Homo sapiens: one gene and its partners. The protein of the gene in region 1 purifies or fractionates together with the protein of each later gene. This does not show direct contact. Each region holds a gene or a part of one and is shown in the gene's direction. Other genes may lie near its edges. The genes, in order: CGAS, MAP7D1, PDGFRA, CNP, ANKRD28, SMARCA5 and TRIM25.

Region 1 (3,500 bases):
AATGATATCTCAGTGTAGTTTATTTAAAAATAAACTTTTTGTTTTAGCATAGTTTTGTATTTACAGAAAAATTGTGAAGATAGTACAGAGAGTTCCCGTATAACCCCATACCCATTCCCCTGGGGTTTTTTCTGGGGGAGGTAGTGGGGCAGAGTTTCACTATGTTGCCCATGCTGGTCTTGAACTGAGCTCAATGATCCTCCCACCTCACCTTATCAAGTAACTGGGACTACAGACACGTGCCACTGCAGCACCCCCATTTTCCTATTATTAATATCTCACATTAATACAATACATTTAATAATTAATAAACCAATATTGATATATTATTGTTAGCTAAGGGCTATATCTGCTGGGCACAGTGGGTCTTGCCTGTAATCCCAGCACTTTGGGAGGCCGAGGTGGGCAGATCACCTGAAATCAAGAGTTCGAAACCACCCTGGCCAACATGGCAAAACCCCGTCTCTACTAAAAAAATACAAAAATTAGCCAGGCGTGGTGGCATGTGACTTAGTCCCAGCTACTCAGGAGGCCGAGACAGGAGAATCACTTGAACTTGGTGGGTGGAGTTGCAGTGAGCCAAGATCATGCCACTGCACTCCAGTCTAGGAGACACAGCGAGACTCCATTAAAAAAAAAAATTATATACTTTATCCAGATTTCCTTAGTTTTTCTTAATGTCCTTTTACTGTTCCAAGATCCCATTTAGGATACCATATTGCATTTAGTTGTCATGTCTCCTTAAGCTACTCTTGACTGTGACAGTTTTTTGGTTTTAACAGTTTTGAGGAGTACTAGTTAGGTATTTTGTAGAATGTCCTTTACTTGAGATTTCTTTATTATGTTTCTTATGATTAGATCAGAGTTATTGGTTTGGGGGAGGAAGGTCACAGAGGCAAAGTGCCATCCTTATCAAATTTTATCAACGGTACGTGCCACCTTTCTTTACAGTCATGTACAGTTGACCCTCAGGATTGGCTCCAGGGTACCCTGCAGACACCGAAGTCCACAGATGCTCAAATCCCTTACATAAAATGATATAATACAGTTGGCCCTCCATATCTGTGGGTTTCAATTCACGATTGGTTGAATTCTCAGATGTGAAACCCTCAGATACAGAGGGCCAACCGTATTGTGTAGCTATCCCTGAACTCTTTATTCTGTCCCATTAAAATCTTTGTCTATCTTTGTACCATGTTGTTGTACATAATGTAGCTTTATAATTAGTCTCAATATCTTTTAGGGCAAGTTCTACCACTTCGTTTTTCTCCAAGGGTGTCTGAGAGAGTCTTGACCCTTTACATTCTCATATAAATTTTGAAATCAGCTTTTCAGATTCCACAAAATACTTTTTGGAATTTTGATTGAGATAATGTTGAATCTATAGATAAATTTGGGGCCAGGAATGATGACTTATGCCTGTAATTCCAGCACTTCAGAAGGCTGAGGAAGGAGAGTTGCTTTAGGTGAGGGGTTCAAGACCATCTTGGACAACACTGTGTAAAAACTCTAGCCAGGCGTGGTGGCTCACGCCTGTAATCCCAGCACTTTGGAAGGCCAAGGTGAGTGGATTACGAGGTCAAGAGATCGAGACCATCCTGGCCAACATGGTAAGACCCCATTTCTACTAAAAATACAAAAATTAGCTGGGCATGGTGGCACGTGCCTGTAGTCCTAGCTACTCGGGAGGCTGAGGCAGGAGAATCGCTTGAACCCAGGAGGCAGAGGTTGCAGTGAGCCAAGATCACGCCATTGCACTCCAGCCTGGTGACAGAGAGAGACTCCGTCTCAAAAAAAAATTAAAAAAAAAAAACTCTCTATAAAAGTTTTTATAGAGAGTTGTGAGTCTTCATCTCTATAAAAACTTTTTAAAAATTAGCCAGGCGTGGTGGTGTGCACTTGTAGCTTGTAGTCTTAGTTACGCAAGAGAATCACTTAAGCTCAGGAGTTCGAGGTTACAGTGAGCTATGATCTTGCCACTGCACTCCAGCCTGGGCAACATAACAAGACACTGTCTGTATTAAAAAAAAAAAACATGGGAGAGAGTTGATATGTTAACAATATTGAGTCTCCCAATCCACTTATTTACATCTCCTCTAATACTTCCCAGCTTCATTCATTAGCATTTTCTCTGCAGAGGTTTTGTATATCTTTTGTTAATTTATTCATAGGTAATTGATCTATTTTAAAACTATTTATTTATTTATTTATTTTGAGATGGAGTCTCGCTCTGTCACCCAGGCTGGAGTGCAGTGGTGCGATCTCGGCTCACTGCACCCTCCACCTCCTGGGTTCAAGCGATTCTCCTGCCTCAGCCTCCTGAGTAGCTGGGATTACAGGTGCCCACCACCGTGTCTGGCTAGTTTTTGTATTTTTAGTAGAGATAGGGTTTCACCATGTTGTCCAGGCTGCTCTCAAACTCCTGACCTCAGGTGATCTGCTCACCTCGGCCTCCCAAAGTACTGGGATGACAGGCGTGAGCCACCGCGCCTGGCCAAAACTTTTTATTATGAAAATTTTAAACCAGTACCAAAGGAGACTGGGCCAGGAGTGTTGGCTCATGCTTGTAATACCAGCATTTTGGGAGGCTGAGGTGGGTGGATCACTTGAGCCCAGGAGTTCAAGCCTGGGCCACGTGACAAAACCCTGTCTCTTCAAAAAATACAAAATAAATTAGCTGGGTGTGGTAATATGCACCTGTTGTCCCAGCTATTTGGGGGGCTGAGGTGGGAGAATCACTTGAGTCTAGGAGGTTGAGGCTTCTGTGAGCCGAGATCATGTCACTGCGCTCCAGCCTGGGTGACAAAGTGAAACCTTGTCTTAAAAAAATAATCAATGACTGGGAGCGGTGGCTCACACCTGTAATCCAAGCACTTTGGGAGGCCAAGGCGGGTGGGTCACCTGAGGTCAGGAGTGCGAGACCAGCCTGGCCAACATGGTGAAACCCCATCTCTACTAAAAATACAAAATTAGCCGGGCATGGTGGCGCATGCCTGTAATCCCAGCTACTCAGGAGGCTGAGGCAGGAGAATCACTTGAACCTGGAAGGCAGAGGTTGCAGTGAGCTGAGATGGTGTCACTGCACTCCAGCCTGGGCAACAGAGCGAGACTCAATCTCAAAAAATAAAAATAAATAAAAATAAATGTATAAACAAATAATAATTTTCTTATATTAGCTGGGCACAGTGGCTCACAGCTGTAATTCCAGCACTTTGGGAGGTGGGAGGATTGCTGGACCCCAGGAGTTTGAGATCAGCCTGGGCAAGGTGGAGAGACCCCGTCTCTACAAAAAAATCCAAAAATTAGCCAGCCATGGTGATGTATGCTTCTGGTCCCGCTATTGGAACGGCTAACATGAGAAGATTGCTTGAGGCTGGGAAGTCGAGGTTTCAGTGAGCTGTGTTCACGCACTCCAGCCTGGGTGATAGAGGGAGATCTTGTCTCAAAAAATGAAAGAAAAAAGTAATAATTCCCTAATATCAAACACCTATTCAGTATTA
Region 2 (3,500 bases), on another chromosome or scaffold:
CTTCAGTAAATTAGTTTGGGCCTGGAAACTGGCTGGGGACATGCAGGTTCTGAGATGAACATGACATTTAGTGTTTAGAGAGACTAAGCTTTGGAGCAGCTTGAGGGTCTAAATACACACTAGCTAGGTAGCTTTCTACAGTACCCCCACCCACATATCTACATACCCAGCCACCCACCCACCCATCGGACATTCATTAAACAGACACAGAACTCCCACTCTGTGCCAGGCAGGTCCTGTATAAGACTCTGGGGCTGCAAAAAGGACTAAGACTGAGTTTCTTCTCTTGATAAGCTCTCACACTGACAAGGGCAGGGGGTGGCAGGCAAACAGAAAAGCTAGACTGAGTTATCAGTGTTGTGAGAGGAATATTTGGCCCAACAAGAGTTGTTGGGGTGGGAGGAGGGAGAGACAAAAGGAAAGGACTGCCAGCTCTCAGAGGGTGGAGATGGGGTGTTAGTATTCTGAGACATGTGACAGTCTCTCTGAGGGACTTGGCCCTGATCTTTCTGCAGACCCCAGGCACAGCCCCTCTTGGAGCTCTTAGGAAGACAGGACTTTTTGACCCCACAATGCAACCCACCACTGCACTTTTGCCCTGCTAATGCTCTTTGTGCCAAGAAATAAATACAAATTATTTGTCTCTTATCTCATTCTTAACAAATACTTCTGGTAGATATTAGTGTAGCAAAATAAAACCAACAGTGGCAAAACCTCACAATCTGGCATAGACCAAAAATAAGATAAAATTAAGTAGCCGAAGGATCATATTTGATGGTTAAAAATGAGAATGATCATAAATAGATTAACCATACTGTATAGATAACTAACCAAGGAGTTTTGGCTTAATGTGATTTGCTCCATAACACTGTGCCAATGACATTTCATCAGGGTTGGCATAATTGTGAAGAAAATATTTGTATTCAGGGTCAATAGTGTGCCAGGTCACAAGAGGAGTTCCAAACTTCTTGTTTGCCTCTTGAGAAGTTTTTCTTGTTGAGCTGCTGGAGTAAACACTCATTATTATTTTTATTAACTTCTACCTGTGTGGCTTAGTCCAGGAAGCTGCCCAAACACTATTGAGATGGAGTTGTTTTGCTTCTCTTCAAATGTTTATCTTTTTGCTATAAGTTGCCACATAGATATATACTTTTTTTCTTTTTTTTTTTTTTTTTTTTTTTTTTTGGAGACAGCATCTGATTCTGTCGCCCAGGCTGGAGTGCAGTAGTGCAGTCTCAGATCACTGCAGCTTCCACCTCTGGGTTCAAGGGATTCTTCTCTCAGCCTCCCAAGTAGCTGGGACTACAGGTGTGCACAACCACGCCCAGCTAATTTTTGTAGTTTTAGTAGACATGGGGTTTTGCCATTTGCCCAGGCTGCTCCCGAACTCCTGGGCTCAAACGATCTGCTCTCCTTGGCCTCCCAAAGTGCTGGGATTACAGGCGTGAGCCACTGCGCCCAGCCTAGATCTACTCTTTATTAGAGTAAAAATCTTCTATATGCTTTAGGCTAGGGCAGCCTCATAGTATAGCACTTTATTTGTGTTATACTGTTTATTCAAATATTTTATGACTATCTCCGTATACTTGGCACTGTGGTAGCTGCTGGTGATGCAGCAGTGAGCAAAGTAGACATGGCCAGCTCTTGTGGGGCTCCCTCACCTTCTAGGAGGAGGCTGACAATAAGGAAAGAACCATGCAAGGAAGTTTAAAATCATAACAGTGACAGTGTTCCAAAGGCACATGAAACCATGACTATATACAACAAGGGAATTTATCCTAATCAGAGAAGCCAAGGAAGGCTTCCATGAGGAAGTGATGACTGAACTAACATATGTAGGGCAAATAGGAGTTAGCTAAGAAAAGAGAGTATGTGCAAAGGCCCTGTGGCAGGAGGGAGTGTGGATGGTCATCAGCATTAAAGGAAGGTCAGTGTGGCTGGAGTTCAGAGAGCAAGCGGGGAGCAGGGTAGGAGAGGAGATCCAAGAAGTAGGGGGAGGGAGTCAGGAACTTCAGATTATACTATTATACTGGACTAGTAGGGTGAGTTCAAGAAGGGGAAGCCACTGACAAGTTTCAAGTGGCAAAGAGCACCGTGATCAGATTTGCATTTGCTCTGGCTGCTCAGTGGAGCAGAGAGTGGGAATGGGTACAGGCGAGCAGTGAGAGGACTTTGTAGTCATCCAGGTGAGAGCGATGATGGTGATGATGATATCTGCCTGGGTGTAGTTCATTCATTTCTTCATTCAACAAATAGTTATGGAGCACCTATGTGCCAGGCTCTGTTGGCCCTAGAGATAGACCAGCTAACAAAATAGGCAAAAATTTGTGCCCTCATAGAGATTATATTCTAGCAGTGGGAGACTTAAAATGGTGTTAATGCCTATGGAGAAAAAGAAGACTTGGAAAGAAAAATCTAGTTGGAACTGGGAGGGAGACTTCAACTGCAGTTTGTAGTTTTATTTAATTTTTTTTCTTTTTCTGAGACAGCATCTTACTCTGTTGCCCAAGCTGGTATACAGTGGTATAATCATCGCTCACTGTAGCCTCAAACTCCTGGGCTCAAGGTATCCTCCTGCCTTAGCATCCTAACTAGCTGAGACTACAGGTGTGCACCACCATGCCCAGCTGTTTTTTATTTTTTAGTTGAGATAGGGTCTGGCTGTGTTGCCCAGGCTGTTCTCAAGCTCCTGGCCTCAAGTGATCCTCCCACCTCAGTCTCCCAAATTGCTGGGATTACAGGTGTGAGCCACCTTGCCTGGCCTTTATTTAATTTTATTTAAAATTTTTCTTTTTTTTCTTTTTCTTTTTTTTTTTTTTTAGAGACAGGGTTTTGCTTTGTCACCCAGGCTGGAGTACAGCAGCATGCTCATAGTTCACTGTAACCTCAGTCTCTATTTCAGCATGTCATGATGCCTGGGTAATTTAAAAAAATTTTTTTAGAGATGGAATCTCACTATGTTGTCCAGGCTGATCTCAAACTCCTGGCCTTAAGGGATCCTCCTGTCTGGGTCTCCCAAAGTGTTGGGATTACAGGCATAAGCCACCGCACCACGCCTGCAGTTTGTAGCTTTTTTTTTTTTTTTTTTGGAGACGGAGTCTCACTCTGTCATCCAGGCTGGAGTGCAGTGGCACGATCTTGGCTCACCGCATCCTCTGCCTCCTGGGTTCAAGTGATTCACCAGCCTCAGCCTCCCGAGTAGCTGGGATTACAGGCACATGCTACCACACCCAGCTAATTTTTGTGTTTTTTAGTAGACGGGATTTCGCCATTGTGGCCAGGCTGGTCTCGAACTCCTGACCTCAGGTGATCCACCTGCCTTGGCCTCCCAAGGTGCTGGGATTACAGGCGTGAGCCACCGCTCCCAGCCCAGTTTGTAGTTTTAAATAGGGGCTAAGGGAAGGCTCCATTTAAAAGTGACATCAAAATAAAGACCTGAAGGAGGGGAGGGAACGAGGCACGCAGAATCTGGGGGCAGAGAATTCAAGGCAGAGAAACAG
Region 3 (3,453 bases), on another chromosome or scaffold:
CTTCCACTTCTGGGGCCACCTCTGGATCCCGTTCAGAAAACCACTTTATTGCAATGCAGAGGTTGAGAGGAGGACTTGGTTGATGTTTAAAGAGAAGTTCCCAGCCAAGGGCCTCGGGGAGCGTTCTAAATATGAATGAATGGGATATTTTGAAATGAACTTTGTCAGTGTTGCCTCTTGCAATGCCTCAGTAGCATCTCAGTGGTGTGTGAAGTTTGGAGATAGATGGATAAGGGAATAATAGGCCACAGAAGGTGAACTTTGTGCTTCAAGGACATTGGTGAGAGTCCAACAGACACAATTTATACTGCGACAGAACTTCAGCATTGTAATTATGTAAATAACTCTAACCAAGGCTGTGTTTAGATTGTATTAACTATCTTCTTTGGACTTCTGAAGAGACCACTCAATCCATCCATGTACTTCCCTCTTGAAACCTGATGTCAGCTGCTGTTGAACTTTTTAAAGAAGTGCATGAAAAACCATTTTTGAACCTTAAAAGGTACTGGTACTATAGCATTTTGCTATCTTTTTTAGTGTTAAAGAGATAAAGAATAATAATTAACCAACCTTGTTTAATAGATTTGGGTCATTTAGAAGCCTGACAACTCATTTTCATATTGTAATCTATGTTTATAATACTACTACTGTTATCAGTAATGCTAAATGTGTAATAATGTAACATGATTTCCCTCCAGAGAAAGCACAATTTAAAACAATCCTTACTAAGTAGGTGATGAGTTTGACAGTTTTTGACATTTATATTAAATAACATGTTTCTCTATAAAGTATGGTAATAGCTTTAGTGAATTAAATTTAGTTGAGCATAGAGAACAAAGTAAAAGTAGTGTTGTCCAGGAAGTCAGAATTTTTAACTGTACTGAATAGGTTCCCCAATCCATCGTATTAAAAAACAATTAACTGCCCTCTGAAATAATGGGATTAGAAACAAACAAAACTCTTAAGTCCTAAAAGTTCTCAATGTAGAGGCATAAACCTGTGCTGAACATAACTTCTCATGTATATTACCCAATGGAAAATATAATGATCAGCAAAAAGACTGGATTTGCAGAAGTTTTTTTTTTTTTTTTCTTCATGCCTGATGAAAGCTTTGGCGACCCCAATATATGTATTTTTTGAATCTATGAACCTGAAAAGGGTCAGAAGGATGCCCAGACATCAGCCTCCTTCTTTCACCCCTTACCCCAAAGAGAAAGAGTTTGAAACTCGAGACCATAAAGATATTCTTTAGTGGAGGCTGGATGTGCATTAGCCTGGATCCTCAGTTCTCAAATGTGTGTGGCAGCCAGGATGACTAGATCCTGGGTTTCCATCCTTGAGATTCTGAAGTATGAAGTCTGAGGGAAACCAGAGTCTGTATTTTTCTAAACTCCCTGGCTGTTCTGATCGGCCAGTTTTCGGAAACACTGACTTAGGTTTCAGGAAGTTGCCATGGGAAACAAATAATTTGAACTTTGGAACAGGGTTGGCATTCAACCACGCAGGAAGCCTACTATTTAAATCCTTGGCTTCAGGTTAGTGACATTTAATGCCATCTAGCTAGCAATTGCGACCTTAATTTAACTTTCCAGTCTTAGCTGAGGCTGAGAAAGCTAAAGTTTGGTTTTGACAGGTTTTCCAAAAGTAAAGATGCTACTTCCCACTGTATGGGGGAGATTGAACTTTCCCCGTCTCCCGTCTTCTGCCTCCCACTCCATACCCCGCCAAGGAAAGGCATGTACAAAAATTATGCAATTCAGTGTTCCAAGTCTCTGTGTAACCAGCTCAGTGTTTTGGTGGAAAAAACATTTTAAGTTTTACTGATAATTTGAGGTTAGATGGGAGGATGAATTGTCACATCTATCCACACTGTCAAACAGGTTGGTGTGGGTTCATTGGCATTCTTTGCAATACTGCTTAATTGCTGATACCATATGAATGAAACATGGGCTGTGATTACTGCAATCACTGTGCTATCGGCAGATGATGCTTTGGAAGATGCAGAAGCAATAATAAAGTACTTGACTACCTACTGGTGTAATCTCAATGCAAGCCCCAACTTTCTTATCCAACTTTTTCATAGTAAGTGCGAAGACTGAGCCAGATTGGCCAATTAAAAACGAAAACCTGACTAGGTTCTGTAGAGCCAATTAGACTTGAAATACGTTTGTGTTTCTAGAATCACAGCTCAAGCATTCTGTTTATCGCTCACTCTCCCTTGTACAGCCTTATTTTGTTGGTGCTTTGCATTTTGATATTGCTGTGAGCCTTGCATGACATCATGAGGCCGGATGAAACTTCTCAGTCCAGCAGTTTCCAGTCCTAACAAATGCTCCCACCTGAATTTGTATATGACTGCATTTGTGTGTGTGTGTGTGTTTTCAGCAAATTCCAGATTTGTTTCCTTTTGGCCTCCTGCAAAGTCTCCAGAAGAAAATTTGCCAATCTTTCCTACTTTCTATTTTTATGATGACAATCAAAGCCGGCCTGAGAAACACTATTTGTGACTTTTTAAACGATTAGTGATGTCCTTAAAATGTGGTCTGCCAATCTGTACAAAATGGTCCTATTTTTGTGAAGAGGGACATAAGATAAAATGATGTTATACATCAATATGTATATATGTATTTCTATATAGACTTGGAGAATACTGCCAAAACATTTATGACAAGCTGTATCACTGCCTTCGTTTATATTTTTTTAACTGTGATAATCCCCACAGGCACATTAACTGTTGCACTTTTGAATGTCCAAAATTTATATTTTAGAAATAATAAAAAGAAAGATACTTACATGTTCCCAAAACAATGGTGTGGTGAATGTGTGAGAAAAACTAACTTGATAGGGTCTACCAATACAAAATGTATTACGAATGCCCCTGTTCATGTTTTTGTTTTAAAACGTGTAAATGAAGATCTTTATATTTCAATAAATGATATATAATTTAAAGTTATACTAAGGTTTCAGCATTTTTGTTTTTAGTTTAATCATAAGAATTAAAGCAATCCTGTTCTATTTACTTTCTTAGCAACATTTGTAGGACTCTATATTAGGCCTTTTTTTTTTTTTTCCTGAGACGGAGTTTTGCTCTTGTCATCCAGGCTGGAGTGCAGTGGCGTGATCTCAGTTCACTGCAACTTCTGCCTCCCGAGTTCAAGCAATTCTCCTGCCTCAGCCTCCCAAGTAGCTGGGATTATAGGCGCCTGCCACCATGCCTGGCTAATTTTTGTATTTTTAGTAGAGATGGGGGTTTCATCATGTTGGCCGGGCTGGTCTCGAACTCCTGACCTTAGATGATCTGCCTGCCTCGGCCTCCCAAAGTGCTGGGATTACAGGTGTGAACCACCACGCCTGGCCTTTATTAGGCTTTTGATGAACCAATAGAATATCTAAGGTTTAAGACATTATATGAGCTAGATTGTTCCACGACACAGTATTTGACTTAAAGATGAT
Region 4 (3,500 bases), on another chromosome or scaffold:
ATCCGCTTGCCTTGGCCTCCCAAAGTGCTGGGATTACAGGCGTGAGCCACCACCGCACCCAGCCACCCCCAATTTTAGATGATCTTCATGCCTGAAATAGCCCCACTCTGGTTTGTTGACATTGTGTATATTGCACAGAAGCAGGGAATTTGTGCCTGTATGGGTTCTCAGAGAGCTTTTTTCTCAGCTCCTAAACTTGAACTCTGCAGTGAACTGTGGTGCTTGCAGTGACATTGGCCAGGAGCAAGCCCTGTACCTGTGAGCTGGTGGCTCTGCCCTGGAGTGACTACTGCTCAAAGTTGCTTTTAATATTTATTTATGAGACGGAGTCTTGCTCTGTTGCCCAGGCTGGAGTGCAGTGGCATGATCTCGGCTCACTGCAACCTCCGCCTCCTGGGTTCAAGCCAATTCTCTGCCTCAGCTTCCCAAGTAGCTGGGAATACAGGCGCCTGCCACCATGCCCGGCTAATTTTTTTTTATTTTTGTATTTTTAGTAGAGACAGGGTTTCACCATCTTGACCAGGCTGGTCGGTAGCACAAAAGAAAGGAGGGGCCCTTGGCCCAAGATGGGACGAATCAAGCTTGACAGGATGATTGCCAGATCTTTTTTTTTTTTTTTTTTGAGACGGGGGTCTTGCTCTGTCGCCCAGGCTGGAGTGCAGTGGGGCAATTCGGCTTACTGCAACCTCCATCTCCCGGGTTCAAGCAATTCTCCTGCCTCAGCCACCCAAGTAGCTGGGATTACAGGCACCCGCCACCATACCTGGCTAATTTATAAATTTTTAGTAGAGACAGGGTTTCACCATGTTGGCCAGGCTGGTCTCAAACGCCCCGCCTCAATTTCCCAAATTGCCGGGATTACAGGTGCGAGCCACTATGCCCAGCCTATTTTATTTGTAAAGGAAAACTGGATTTTTCTGCCCAGGATTAGAGCAGGAGAAATGTAATGGGCCAGCAAGGCTGCTCTCAGGAGAGGCCTTCCTCCCCTGTGGAGGGCGAGACATCCTCATGGGGACTCAATTCAGAACATAACAGGAAAAAGCGAGTGACTCCAAAGACAGCCACAGGTGTGGAGTCTGGAAATCAAAATCACAGATACTCCACTCCTCTTTGTGTCTTCCAGCCCCATAATGTCACCCCATTATAGTCCAAGACCCTTCCTGTACCAGGAGGCCCCCCCATAGGCCTGCAAGGTGTGTATTAAACTGATGGTGACGTTGTGACTGCTTGTCCAGATGGGCCCCTGAGTGAAATGGGGCACTACTGATAGTTCCCTGGTGGTCCTGGGAACACTGGGGTATATGGTCACCCTAACTGTTGTGCTGGATTGATAGATAGGGTTGGTCACTTGCCCGAGGCCGATGGCTGGTACATGGCAGAGCTGAGATATTCACTGTGTTCTGGCTGTTTCCACCGTACCATGTTGTTCCCAGCCCTCTGTTTTCTTTCCACCCCACTTCCCATGACTTGCTTCCCCTTTGAGACGTGGTGCTAGTAAATCTTAGATTCCCTTGGCCTGTACTGCCTGCCTCTGTTACAAATGCCTTAGAGTTTGGAGAAGAGATGGAAAGATCTATACAATGTAAAGCCAGAGAATTTTAACTTTTTTTTTTTTTTTTTTGGAGACGGAGTCTTGCTCTGTTGCCTAGGCTGGAGTGCAGTGGCACTATCTCGGCTCGCTGTATCCTCTGCCTCCTGGGTTCAAGCAATTCTCTACCTCAGCCTCCCAAGTAGCTGGGATTACAGGCGCCCGCCACCACGCCTGGCTAATTTCTTTGTATTTTTAGTAGAGACGGGGTTTCACCATCTTGGCCAGGCTGGTCTTGAATTCCTGACCTTGTGATCCACCCACCTCGGCCTCCCAGAGTGCTGGGATTACAGGTGTGAACCACCGCACCTGGCCTGAGAATTTTAACTTTTTATTGCTCTAAAGTTGCCATTAGTTTGACCAACTAACCAATGAATGAGCTGTAGTGGGTTGCTGGAGAGGTGATGCTTAGTGTCCGAGTGTTTTGCGCTGGGCCTCGGTGGTCCTGGTGGCGGATGTTGGTATGCCCCTGCTCCCCTGCCCTGACTGCACCCGTTTTCTCCCGGCAGTCGTCCCTGGGGATGAGCCCAGGGAGAAGATGGACTTGGTCACCTACTTTGGAAAGAGACCCCCAGGCGTGCTGCATTGCACAACCAAGTTTTGTGACTACGGGAAGGCTCCCGGGGCAGAGGAGTACGCTCAACAAGATGTGAGTCTTCCCCAGGGACACATGGGGGAGGTGGGAGGTTGGGGGAGAAGGGGCTGCAGCATCTTCTGAAGATAGGTACCGGTGCCAGGCAGGGACCAAAAACCAGATGGCAGCTCAAGAAAAATGGCATCTCCTCCTCCTAGCTCCCCTGTCCCCAGGCGTAGCTGCATAGACCTCAGCCGCAGGTTCTAAGGAGCCTGCCCTGGCAGTACTGCCAGCCTGTGCATTCACCTGCCCCCAAGCACCTTCGCCTTCTGCAGATTCATGGAGAATGCTGGTCCACAGTGGGCTCCTGCTCTGGTCTCTCTGAGCCTGTTTTACCTTCCAAAGACTAGGAGTCCTTCGCCCCCAGGGAGCCTGGTGCACTGAGGTCCCCATCCCTGTCCCCAGGTCTGAGGTCTGGCCTGGCCCCAGAGTGAGGGAGTTTCATACGATAATGAAGCTTATTGGCTAATGGGTACGAGACCTTTCTGCACCACACAGCTGGCACCTTACACCCACAGCCACTGACAGTGATCCCTGAATGCCAGGCATGTCACCCATATCCACAGTCTCCAACTTCCAAGTGTCCACCCCCAAGCCCACTCTCCCACTTCTCTGCCTAGGTTAGCACAATCGTTTGTTTGTTCACTAGAGTGTCCTCCCAAATGGAAGCTCCCCTGAGGGCGAGTTTTTAAGTTTCGTTGACTCCTGTGGTTCCAGCACCCTAGCATAGTGGAATGAATATGTAACACCTGAGCTACCATCCCTAACCATGCCTTCATTTAGCATTTATTAACTACCCATTTCATGCCAGACACTGTTGGGACAAGGGATCGTGAGCAAAAATAGAAAAGCGTTTATGCTGAGATGGGATGGGCTGTCTCAAAGAATCAGATAGAAGCAGACATATCATCAGATGGGAACCAAAGTGTAAGAGCAGGTTTCCATCAAGGGCGAGTCTGACCTCAGTCTGACCTCACCCTGTCCTCCAGGGCGCTGTCTGGGTCCCAGGGGAAGCTGAGCGGTGCCAACAGTAGCAGCTGTTGTGTGCGCGGACACCCCTGTGGGCTGTTTACCTAGTCACTCTCATAACCACATTAACTCTGAGGTAGGCTCTGGTTCTCCCTGTTTTACGGGTGATGAAGCCAAGGCACCGAGAGGTCAGCCAGCCCGCTGAGGCCGGAAGCCAGTGTGCAGGGAGCTGGGCTCCCTCAGGAAGTCCGGCTGTCCCCGTGTGGCCCTGTCTGAGCGCCTTCGTGTTTCTCACTTGAGCCTGGAGCG
Region 5 (3,500 bases), on another chromosome or scaffold:
GTTGCTGCCCGAAATGGGCTAACAATGGTGGTTCAGGAACTTTTGGGAAAAGGAGCAAGTGTGCTTGCAGTAGATGAAAATGGTAAGTTGGTTCTATATTCTCTTCCCTTAACCTAGAGCTTTTATCTTTTGATCCATATTTGAAGAGAAATAAACTTGGATATTTTTTATTGGTCAAAGAGGAGAGCTAAAGTTAATATTGAAGAGTAGTTTGTGGCAAAGGAATAAGGGCAAAAGAAATAGGAAAAGTTATCTAACAGATGTACTTCCGAATTCCTATATCATCTGTTACAGCAAAGTTAGTATTTACTGTTTATACTTGCCACTTTCTGTTGTTTTAGTAGCCAAAGATTTTGTTCTTTCAGCAAATATGTATCAAGATCCTAGTTAAGTACTAATATTCTTATTTAAAGCCAGTGTTTCTACTCATGCACTAGATCCTGTCCCCTTTTGCCTACTTCATAATGTCAGTTTGACAGTTCTCTTTTGTGTCCTGGAGTAACATTTTTCGCTCTCTTCCTGTATTATTCCTCTCAGTATATAAACATTAGTTCCCTCATCCTTAAAAAATAATTTATAAATCTCACTGCTCCTGCCAGCTACTGCCATATTTCTCTGTCCCCTTTTGCAGCAAAACTACTCTCTTGCTGTCCGCAGTTATTCCTCTCATTCTTCCATTCTTTTGTTGTTGTTGTTGTTGTTTGTTTTTGAGACGGAGTCTAGCTCTGTTGCCCAGGCTGGAGTGCAGTGCCATGATCTCGGCTTACTGCAACCTCCGCCTCCTGGGTTCAAGCGATTCTCATGCCTCAGCCTGCCCAGGTAGCTGGGATTACTGACACCTGCCACGACGCCTGGCTAAATTTTGTATTTTTAGTAGAGACGGAGTTTCACCATATTGGCCAGGCTGGTCTCAAACCCCTGACCTCAGGTGATCTGCCTGCCTTGGCCTCCCAAATTGCTGGGATTACAGGTGTGAGCCACAGCGTCCAGCCTCATTCTTCCATTCTCTCTTAATTTCCGTATAGTCAGGCCTTCTCCCCCTCACCCCTACACATAGCAAAACTGTTCCCATCAAAACCACCAATGACTTCTACTGTGTTAACTACTACTTAGCTCTCATTTTACTTGATAGATCAGCTTTTGGCACAACTGATCGTTTCCTTTGATAAATTTTTTTACTCTGCTTTTTGAACCCCACTCTTCCTTGGTTTTCCTTCTACATTACTAGTTATTCCTTCTTAATTTCTTTTACAAAATTTCTCCCTCTTCTTCTAGGACTCAATTCTTCGTTCTTTTTGCTTTCTCTATCTACATTGACTCCCTAGTGCTCTCATCAGTTCCTTTGGTTTTAAATACTACCTATAATGCTGAGGATTCCCAGATTTATATCTCCAGCCCAGACTTCTCACAGTCTCTATATATCCACGTGCCTAATTGACACATCCATGTGGATGTCTGATAAACAGCTTAAACCTAGAATGTGCAGAACTGAACTGTTGATCCTTTCCCACTCCCCTTGCCAGACCTACTCTCCCCACAGCATCATGCTCTCTCCATTGAAGACAATTCTCATTCTTAACAGTGGCTCAGGGCAAAACCCCTAGAGTCATCCTTGATTCCTCTCACTCATACTCAATGTATAGTCCATCAGCATATACTATTGACTCCACCTCTAAAGTAGATCTAAAGTATGCCCACTTTTTTCTTTACTGCTACCAGACTGACCTGGATCCTTTTAAAGTATATGAGAACATGTTACTCTTGAATTTCGGTTCTTCTTCTTTTTTTTTTTTTTTTTTTTTTTTGAAGAGGCAGGGTCTCACTCTGTTGCCCAGACTAGAGTACAGTGGTGAGATCATAGCTGATTGTAACCTTGAACTCCTGGGCTCAAGAGAACCTCTCACCTCAGCCTCCCAAGTAGCTAGCACTATAAGTATGCATCACCAGGCCTAGCTAATTTATTTTTTGTGCTGACAGACTCTCACTATATTGTCCAGGCCGGTCTTGAACTCCTGGCCTCAAGCAATCCCCCCACCTCAGCCTCCCAGAGTGCTCCACCTGGCCCCACTCATAGTTCTTAAAATGACCTTACTAGGCCCTACATGATGTGTCCTCCACCTTGTTACCTTTCTGATATTATTTCCTACTCTTCTCCTTTCTCTACTTCATTCTGCCATGCCAGCCCCTCCATAGCAGGGTTATACATGCATTGTGATCTTCATTCTGGCTGTTTACTCTGCCTGAACACTCTGTCCCCAAACATCCCATGACTAAATTCGTCACCTGTTTCAAATCTTAGCTCCAGTTTCATCTTCTCAATGAAGCATATTCTAACTATTCTTTACTACAACTTGCTAGATACCCCTACCATAGCATTCTCAGTCCTTGTTAACCTGCTCCACTCTTTCCTCTTTTTTTACATAAAGCTTTTAACATATTGTATATAATGTACTTTTTTGTTATGTTGATTTTGTGTCTTCTCCACTAAAGTGAATGTAAGCTCCACAAGAACAGTGAAATCTTTGTCAGTTGCATTCACTGATATATTCTTAGTGTTCTAAATAGTGCCTGAGCAAGTGGAGGCTCAGTGAATATTTGCTGCATGAGTGATTATGCCAAGCACTGTACTAACTTCTGATGATATAGTGTAAAATAAGACATAGTCTACTCCCTTGAATGGAGATAAGAGTGCAAACAGCCTATTAACGATGCACTTAAAATAGTTTAATTGGAATAAGCATAGAATGCTATGAGAGTACTTAAGAGGGTCTTCAAATCCTTTCTTGCAGGATCAGAGAAGGCATCCCAAAAAATGCAACTGCTAAGCCAAAATCCAAAGGATAAGGAGAAAGTGGGGGAGGAACTTTCTAAGCAAAGAGAGTGGCATGTTAAGAGATAAAACTGGCCGGGCATGGTGGCCCATGCCTATGGTCCTAGCACTTTGGGAGGCACAAGGCGAGTGGATCACCTGAGGTCAGGAGTTCGAGACCAGCCCCGCCAACATGGCAAAACCCCGTCTCTACTAAAAATACAAAAATTAGCCAGGTGTGGTGGCATGTGCCTGTAATCCTAGCTACTTGGGAGGCTGAGGCAAGAGAATCGCTTGAACCCAGGAGGCAGAAGTTGCAGTGAGCCGAGATCATGCCAGTGCACTCTAGCCTGGGTGACAGAGCCAGACTTCGTCTCAAAAAATAACCCCCATGCAGAGGAGAGGAGCCTGTTTTTAGTCATATTCTGACTAGAAAACACACCTGAAACAAGCTTCTTTCCCCACTCCCGCTCTCATCCAAGGCATCCTGGCCTATGTAATGGGTTGTTCTGCCTGCCAGCAGCAGGAACAGCAGCAGGCACCTTTAGAAGAACCCTTGAAAGAAGTGTGGGCAGTGAAGCACTCCCCCAGCTACTTTGAACAAATAAAATTTAATTAAAAATACGGACAGCCTTCAGCCACTGCTGCCAAACTTGGAAGGACATCAGTTGTTCTCTTTGACCCTTGACAA
Region 6 (3,500 bases), on another chromosome or scaffold:
TGGAAATAATGACATTAGTATATAAAGCTCAGATTTGGAAATTTATTCAGACTCTACTGAATAGCTGTGTACTTGTTTTTTATTTCCTCTTCATTTACCTGTGAGTGATAAGTCTATATTTTTCTCTCCCTTTCTAGTTATGTTGGATATTTTAAGTTATCAATTTTTGTTTGTTTGTTTGGGAGCCCAAAGAGTGGTAATTACTTAACCAGTCTTTGCTTCAGTTTCCTTACCTTTAAAATAATACTATTAGGAATGTGTTAATACATTTATAAACCTGAAAGGAATGCAGATGCCTACTACTGCTAACTATCTTTCCACCCTCTTCCTTTCTTTATGTTAAAACCTCCCTCTTTTTTGTCTAAACCTGCCTCCTAAGAATTTCCCGATCTAGTGGAATTGCAGAAAGACATTTTAAGTGTCTATTGAATTTTTCACTGGTTAACTTTGTCAGTTTTTTAAAACTTAATGGTTCTGACATTTAAATGATTAATGACGTTACTTTAGTCTTAGGAAAGCTGGTTCTAAACGTTTGCATAATATAGCTAGCTACTCTACTCCTTTTTAGTATTCCCACCTCTTTTTATATACTAGATTACTTGTCATCAGTAAATGTAATGCGTAGTTTATTTCTACGTGATGTAATTTTTTTCTCTTGTTACACAGGCTGCTTTTGTCAGAGACGTTTTATTACCGGGAGAATGGGATGTATGTGTAACATCTTATGAAATGCTTATTAAAGAGAAGTCTGTGTTCAAAAAATTTAATTGGAGATACTTAGTAATAGATGAAGCTCACAGGATCAAAAATGAAAAATCTAAGGTAATTTGATACTTAGATGTGAAAAGCCTTCATGTAAGAATTTGATTAAAGTACAGATTTTTTTTTCTTTTAACTTTAAGTTATGAGATACATGTGCAGAACGTGCAGGTTTGTTAACATAGGTATGCATGTGCCATGGTGGTTTGCTGCACCCCATCATCTAGGTTTTAAGCCCCGCATGCATTAGGTATTTGTCCTAATGCTCTCCCTCTGCTTTCTCCCCACTCCCCGACAGGTCCTGGCATGTGGTGTTCCCCTCCCTGTGTCCATGTGTTCTCATTGTTCAACTCCCACTTATGAGTGAGAACATGTAGTGTTTGGTTTTCTGTTCCTGTGTTAGTTTACTGAGAATGATGGCTTCCAGCTTCATCCATGTCCTTGCAGAGGATATAAACTCATTCTCTTTTATGGCTGCGTACTATTCGCTGATGTATATGTGCCATATTTTCTTTAACCGGTCTATCATTGTTGGGCATTTGTGTTGGTTCCAGGTCTTTGCTGTTGTAGATAATGCAATATGCAGAATATTCTAATGGTGTATTTGGTTCTTTTCTTTCAGTTGTCAGAAATAGTGAGGGAATTCAAGACTACAAATAGACTATTATTAACTGGAACACCTCTTCAGAACAACTTGCATGAGCTGTGGTCACTTCTTAACTTTCTGTTGCCAGATGTGTTTAATTCAGCAGATGTAAGTATTTCCTGGTGCTTTCTGGTTAATAATAATATTTTGCTTAATGCTATATATTTTTGTAATAAAAGTGGCCTGCCTTTTAGCATGGCTTGAGGTTATTATTAATTTTTTATGCTTTTATTTACATAGTTAGCCTGGTGTTATCTCCTAGGTTGTCTCTGTATAATGGGAATTTACTTTTGTGCCTTTGGTTTCAATCTTATTTCATTATTATTATTATTATTTTATTTTTTTTGAGACGTAGTCTCACTCTGTCACCTATGCTGAAGTGCAGTGGTGTGATCTTGGCTCACTGCAGCCTCCACCTCCGGAATTCAGGTGATTCTTGTGCCTCAGCCTTCCGAATAGCTGAGATCACAGGTGTGTGCCACCATGCCCGGCTAGTTTCTGTGTTTTTTGTAGAGATGAGGTTTTGCCATGTTGTCCAGGCTGGTCTCAAGCTCCTGGCCTCAAGCGATCTGCCTGCCTCAGCCTCCCAAAGTGCTGGGATTACAGGCACGAGCCACCACACCAGGCCTCAGTCTTCTTTAAATCATTGTTTTCTCTATCTGAAATGGCATAAATTGTCACTCCTATTTGGTAAGTCAGGTTGGCCTGACTTTGTTTCAGTGGCTCTAGGTTGACTGGTTATGTTTTTAAGGTGCTGCTCAAGGTATTCCTGAAGTGATTTGTATACCTCACATTGCTTATGTTTTAAGTCCCAAGGATGACTGTCAAATTTAGTGAAATCTGTCTGGCTTTTCTTATATTATAGTCTAACAAACAAATAGAACCTAATCTTTATGGATTATTTATAGTCATAGAAAGGATAGTAATGGTTAATTAGCTATTTGAACTGTTAATAGTAATATAATAACTATGTCAAGAGTTTGTGCTATTAGAAATTGCAGTTTTTTTTGCCTGGACCAGTGTTTATTTTTGAAGCTTTGTTTGCATAGCTGGCGTCTTATGTGTATTGGAGGGATTTGAAGAGCTCCATGTTAGTATATTTTTGTACAATTAAGTTATAAAAAGGTATTAATTAATTTTGTTTTTTTTCTGTTGAAGATTGTTTTGAAAGAATAGATTGTGTTGTAAAAAGATATTTAATCAGACTCCAAAAGCAATTTTAGCTTCGATTTTATGTATTTTGATGTTTTTGAGATAATTCCTGTTTCTCACTACATTGACACTTTCATTTACTTTAAAGCAGTGAATTCTAAGATTATGTTTACTCAAAAACAAAGCACATATATAATACATATGTTCAAGAGATGAGGTTAGGGAAACTGCCCTTGTTGAAATCGTAACCAAATATTAATGAAATGCTGGTAATTTCAATTTCATTTAGTAAGTTTGATTAAAATTGACATTGTTCGTAAACTTGTATTTGAGTAGTGCGAATGGTCTCAGAGAACAAACTATAAAATGTTTTAATTTTCAAGCTTTTATGAAACTTGAAAGATACTTTACAAGAATATTAATTTTCTAATCCTATAGAACTTGCTCTCCAACTTTTTACTGTGAAACTTGTTATTTTGATGTTTTTGAGAAGAATGTTTAGAAGGTAGTGTGATTTCTGAACTACTTGTTTTAAAATTAGTAACAATGACACATGAAAACCAGGATTGGACTAAGTGATTTTTTTTTGTGGGTTACAATTCAAATTACTAATTCTAGAAATCATTTCTATATCTGGTATTATAGGGTATTTGTTAATATTATCTCTGATCTGAGTATATTTTTTGTTTGTTTATCTAGGACTTTGATTCCTGGTTTGATACAAACAACTGCCTTGGGGATCAAAAACTAGTTGAGAGGCTTCATATGGTAAGTATTTTGGAGTAGTGTTAAAGCATATTTATGATGGGAAAAAGGATAAAGGTTTAAATTAGTAGATTATTTTCCTGTTAATAAAAAACACAATGGCTTAAGAATCAGATCTGCTTGAATTCTGACACTTAACTCTTACATCTTACAATCAGTGTAGGGGGTGATGTGTGGT
Region 7 (3,500 bases), on another chromosome or scaffold:
TCCCCTGCCACTGCTCCCACTCCTCAGACTGGGCCCAGGGTCCTTGTCATCCTCTTGGGACTCTTGCATGGGTAGTATCGCATTCTTCCTTGGGATCCCCGTATATCTCCCTCATTAGGTTGTGATCTCTGTGAGGTCAGGGGCTGCGGCTTATTTATTTATTTATTCAGGATCTTGCTCTGTCGCCCAGGCCGGAATGCAATGGCGTGATTATAGTTCACTGTAACCTCAAACTCCTGGGATTAAGTGATCCCTCTGCCTCAGCCTCCCGACTAGCTAGGACTATAGATACACACCATCATGCCCGGCTAATTAAAAAAAAATTTTTTTTTTTTTGAGACGGAGTCTCGCTCTGTCACCCAGGCTGGAGTGCAATGGCCCAATCTCTGCTCACTGCAACCTCTGCCACCCAGGTTCAAGCATTTCTCCTGCCTCAGCCTCCTGAGTAGCTGGGATTACAGGCATGTGCCACCACACCTGGCTAATTTTTGTATTTTTAATAGAGACATGGTTTCACTACTTTGGTCAGGCTAGTCTTGAACTCTCGACCTCAAGTAATCTGCCTGCCTCAGCCTCCCAAAATGCTGGGATTACAGGCGTGAGCCACCGGGCCCAGCCTAAAAAATTTTTTTTGTAGAGCCAGGGTCTCGCTAAGTTGTCCAGACTGATCTTGAGCTCCTGGCTTCAAGTGATGCTCCTGCCTTGGCCTCCCAAATCATTGGGATTACAGGCTTGAGCCACTGTGCCTGGCCTGTCTGATTTTTCTTCAACGCTATTTCCCTAGTGCCTAGCACAGAGCCTGGCCCATAGTAAATCTCTGTTGTGTAGTCCAAGATTGGGCTTGAATCTCAGCTTGGCCTGCCGAGTGTCCTTGCAGAAGGGCTTCTGAAATCGGTGGCGGTGCAGCCCCATTGTGGAAGTGCTGCGTGGGGGCAAAGCTATAGGTGGCTGGTATGTGGGAGGAGGGGAGAGAAAGAATAGTGGGAAAGGAACAAGTGTTGACCCAGCCTCCGCTACATGACCTTGATCTCATTCAGGAGTCACATCAACCATGAGCAAGGTGAAGTCATCCCCATTGTGTGCTCGAAGAAACCAAAGCTCAGAGAAGTCTCAGAGGCCACAGAGCTGGGTGCTGGTGGAAAAAAGACTTGGCCCTTGCTACATTTTAAAAAGTCAGAGAAAAAAGGGAATACACCAAACTGGTTCTTAGATCACCTTGTTTGTAGCTCTTGTAAGCGATGGGATGGGGAAGGTCGGAGGAAATGGCTGTCTGTGTAAACCCTCTGCCTGCCCACCGACCCATGGCAAAGCTGGCTGCTAGGGTCAGTGAGAGGAGCCGCACACACTGAGCCCTTCTTCTCTGACACAGGTGACCCTGGAGAGCATGACCCAGCGTCCACACACAAATCCACACGCCCTGTGAAGAAGGTCTCCAGTAAGTAGCCCCACCCCTGTCTCCATGGCAACAGCATGGCTGTGGCCTCCCCAGGCTCTGGCCAAGTCACTTCCGGCCCATCCCGAGTCACTGTGGGGCCTGGACCTCAGTGGGAAAGAAGTTGGTGGCAGTCCCCACTGCGGGGGGCTGTAGGGCTGTGGCAGAAGCTCCGCTGTCCATCAGCATTGCACGTTTGGGCTGCCTGGAACAGCAAGATGCCTGAGGCTGGCTTGTTTTGAGAAATATTTACTATACCCAAGTCCTTGGGCAGAGCCTTGGGCAAGGAGACTGATGGCGGTCCAGGAAGGGTGGAGGCTAAACCTCCTTGGCATCTCAGCAGTGTTAAGTCTCTGGGTTGTAATGGGCTTCTGCTATTACCATGTTTCTCAACTGTTTTTTTTTTTTTGGTTTCTCACTGTTACCCTCCTCCTGCTCATCCCCAGAACCATTTGAGAAAATTTTTTTCCTAATTACAACCCATGAAATTTTAATACCACCCATCTACTGCATAACTGTTTATGTTTGTGCTTTTACACATAAAAAGAGTAATCTTTTTTACTCCCCCTCCCCCAAGGATCCATTTTTGCCCTCCTAGGGGTACTATCCCCCTCATTGGGCAGGCACCTGCCATTGACATGGGGGTTGAGGAGAAGAGTGGTCCTGTTCTGCAAATGTGGACAATAGTGATATCGAGGCCACAGGATGATTCTGAGTGATGAGGGGACACTGATTGTGAGAGCTCTTTATGAGCCATATACCACTGAGATGTCCATATACCACTGAGATGTCCATATACCACTGAGATGTCCATATACCGCTGACATGTCCATATACCGCTGAGATGTTCATATACTGCTGACATGTCCATATACCGCTGAGATGTCCATATACTGCTGACATGTCCATATACCGCTGACATGTTCATATATCGCTGAGATGTCCATATACCGCTGACATGCCCATATACCGCTGACATGTTCATATACCACTGACATGTCCATATACCACTGAAATGTTAGCTGTCATTGCTTCCCTGAAAAGTTGGTGTGAACCCAGGAGGGCTGGCTGCACACTGCTGGTGTTGGGGGGATGAGAGAGCCAGGGCTTGCTCTTTGTTGTTGTTGCTTGTGCTTAGTGTTCAGGTCACCTGTAGCAGGCAGAGTGTGGTATCGGTCCCCGAATGGAACAGAGTCAGGGCTGGGATGCCTGGTGCAGATGGAGGAGGGAGCCCTTAGCTGGGCCGGAAAACCTCGAAGGGTACTTTGTGTGAAAAGAGGAGTGAAAGAGGAAGTGGAAAGGTACTGTTGACCTGTGTCCTTCCCCAGTCACCTTCCTCTGAAAGCTCCTCCCTTAGTATGAATGAGGTAGGGATGCCGGCCAGCAGGCAGGTGTGTTCCCCAGTGAGGTGAGGTCCTCATGTCACAGCAGAATGACACCCTGGAGAATAAAGTTCGGGAATGAATCAAGGCTCCTCTAGGCTGAAATGGGGAAATAGGGGAGGGGGTATGGAGTAGTCCCAGTGCAGAGAGATGTCTAAGGGTAGGTGATGAGGGAGGTGCCTGTGCCCTAGATTGATGTCACAGCCTGGGCCTCCCAAGATGCTGGTCCACAGGGAGTGGGTGGGAAAGTGGCAGAAGGGGAGGAAATGGGAGAGTGAGCGACTGTGAGTGATGTGACTTCGAAGTAGGAGAAGCGGTAGCAAGGGGGCTTTGTGGTGTGATGGGGGTCTGGGGGAGGGAGAGGGTAATAGGAGAGAGCAGGGCTTATCTGTAATGTCAGGTGTCCTGCAGGTGGGCAGGGATATGATTTCAAAAACGCCCCTTTTTGTTCCAGTGTTGTGGAAGGTGGCAAAGAAGGAAGCTGGGATCTTCTAGCCCACTTGAGTGGACTTTGGACTCACCTGGAGGGCTTGTACATCACAGATTGCTGGGTCTCACCCCCAGCCTTTATGATTCAGTGGCTCTGGCTTGGGGCCCAAGAATTTGCATTTACTATTTTTTAAGAGACAGAGTCTCGCTCTTTTGCCTAGGCTGGAGTGCAGTGGTGCGAACAGAACTCATTGCAG

Evidence for each region.
Region 2: the proteins of CGAS (region 1) and MAP7D1 purify together in Homo sapiens (affinity purification with mass spectrometry, with the first as the bait; one large-scale study listed by BioGRID). This does not show direct contact.
Region 3: the proteins of CGAS (region 1) and PDGFRA purify together in Homo sapiens (affinity purification with mass spectrometry, with the first as the bait; one large-scale study listed by BioGRID). This does not show direct contact.
Region 4: the proteins of CGAS (region 1) and CNP purify together in Homo sapiens (affinity purification with mass spectrometry, with the first as the bait; one large-scale study listed by BioGRID). This does not show direct contact.
Region 5: the proteins of CGAS (region 1) and ANKRD28 purify together in Homo sapiens (affinity purification with mass spectrometry, with the first as the bait; one large-scale study listed by BioGRID). This does not show direct contact.
Region 6: the proteins of CGAS (region 1) and SMARCA5 purify together in Homo sapiens (affinity purification with mass spectrometry, with the first as the bait; one large-scale study listed by BioGRID). This does not show direct contact.
Region 7: the proteins of CGAS (region 1) and TRIM25 purify together in Homo sapiens (affinity purification with western blotting; 2 studies listed by BioGRID, with this or other methods). This does not show direct contact.

The regions. Positions count from the first base shown.
Region 1 is NC_000006.12:73,431,798-73,435,297, reverse strand, and holds part of CGAS (cyclic GMP-AMP synthase), read left to right. Parts: intron 1-3,500. UniProt on the Homo sapiens protein: Nucleotidyltransferase that catalyzes the formation of cyclic GMP-AMP (2',3'-cGAMP) from ATP and GTP and plays a key role in innate immunity.
Region 2 is NC_000001.11:36,162,660-36,166,159, forward strand, and holds part of MAP7D1 (MAP7 domain-containing protein 1), read left to right. Parts: intron 1-3,500. UniProt on the Homo sapiens protein: Microtubule-stabilizing protein involved in the control of cell motility and neurite outgrowth. Facilitate microtubule stabilization through the maintenance of acetylated stable microtubules.
Region 3 is NC_000004.12:54,295,293-54,298,745, forward strand, and holds the end of PDGFRA (platelet-derived growth factor receptor alpha isoform 1 precursor), read left to right. Parts: 3' UTR 1-2,953; downstream 2,954-3,453. UniProt on the Homo sapiens protein: Tyrosine-protein kinase that acts as a cell-surface receptor for PDGFA, PDGFB and PDGFC and plays an essential role in the regulation of embryonic development, cell proliferation, survival and chemotaxis.
Region 4 is NC_000017.11:41,969,795-41,973,294, forward strand, and holds part of CNP (2',3'-cyclic-nucleotide 3'-phosphodiesterase), read left to right. Parts: intron 1-2,097; coding exon 2,098-2,237; intron 2,238-3,500. UniProt on the Homo sapiens protein: Catalyzes the formation of 2'-nucleotide products from 2',3'-cyclic substrates. May participate in RNA metabolism in the myelinating cell, CNP is the third most abundant protein in central nervous system myelin.
Region 5 is NC_000003.12:15,672,480-15,675,979, reverse strand, and holds part of ANKRD28 (serine/threonine-protein phosphatase 6 regulatory ankyrin repeat subunit A), read left to right. Parts: coding exon 1-82; intron 83-2,789; coding exon of another isoform or gene 2,790-2,899; exon of another isoform or gene 2,900-3,500. UniProt on the Homo sapiens protein: Regulatory subunit of protein phosphatase 6 (PP6) that may be involved in the recognition of phosphoprotein substrates. Involved in the PP6-mediated dephosphorylation of NFKBIE opposing its degradation in response to TNF-alpha.
Region 6 is NC_000004.12:143,527,202-143,530,701, forward strand, and holds part of SMARCA5 (SWI/SNF-related matrix-associated actin-dependent regulator of chromatin subfamily A member 5), read left to right. Parts: intron 1-666; coding exon 667-822; intron 823-1,381; coding exon 1,382-1,513; intron 1,514-3,256; coding exon 3,257-3,325; intron 3,326-3,500. UniProt on the Homo sapiens protein: ATPase that possesses intrinsic ATP-dependent nucleosome-remodeling activity.
Region 7 is NC_000017.11:56,897,050-56,900,549, reverse strand, and holds part of TRIM25 (E3 ubiquitin/ISG15 ligase TRIM25), read left to right. Parts: intron 1-1,369; coding exon 1,370-1,435; intron 1,436-3,500.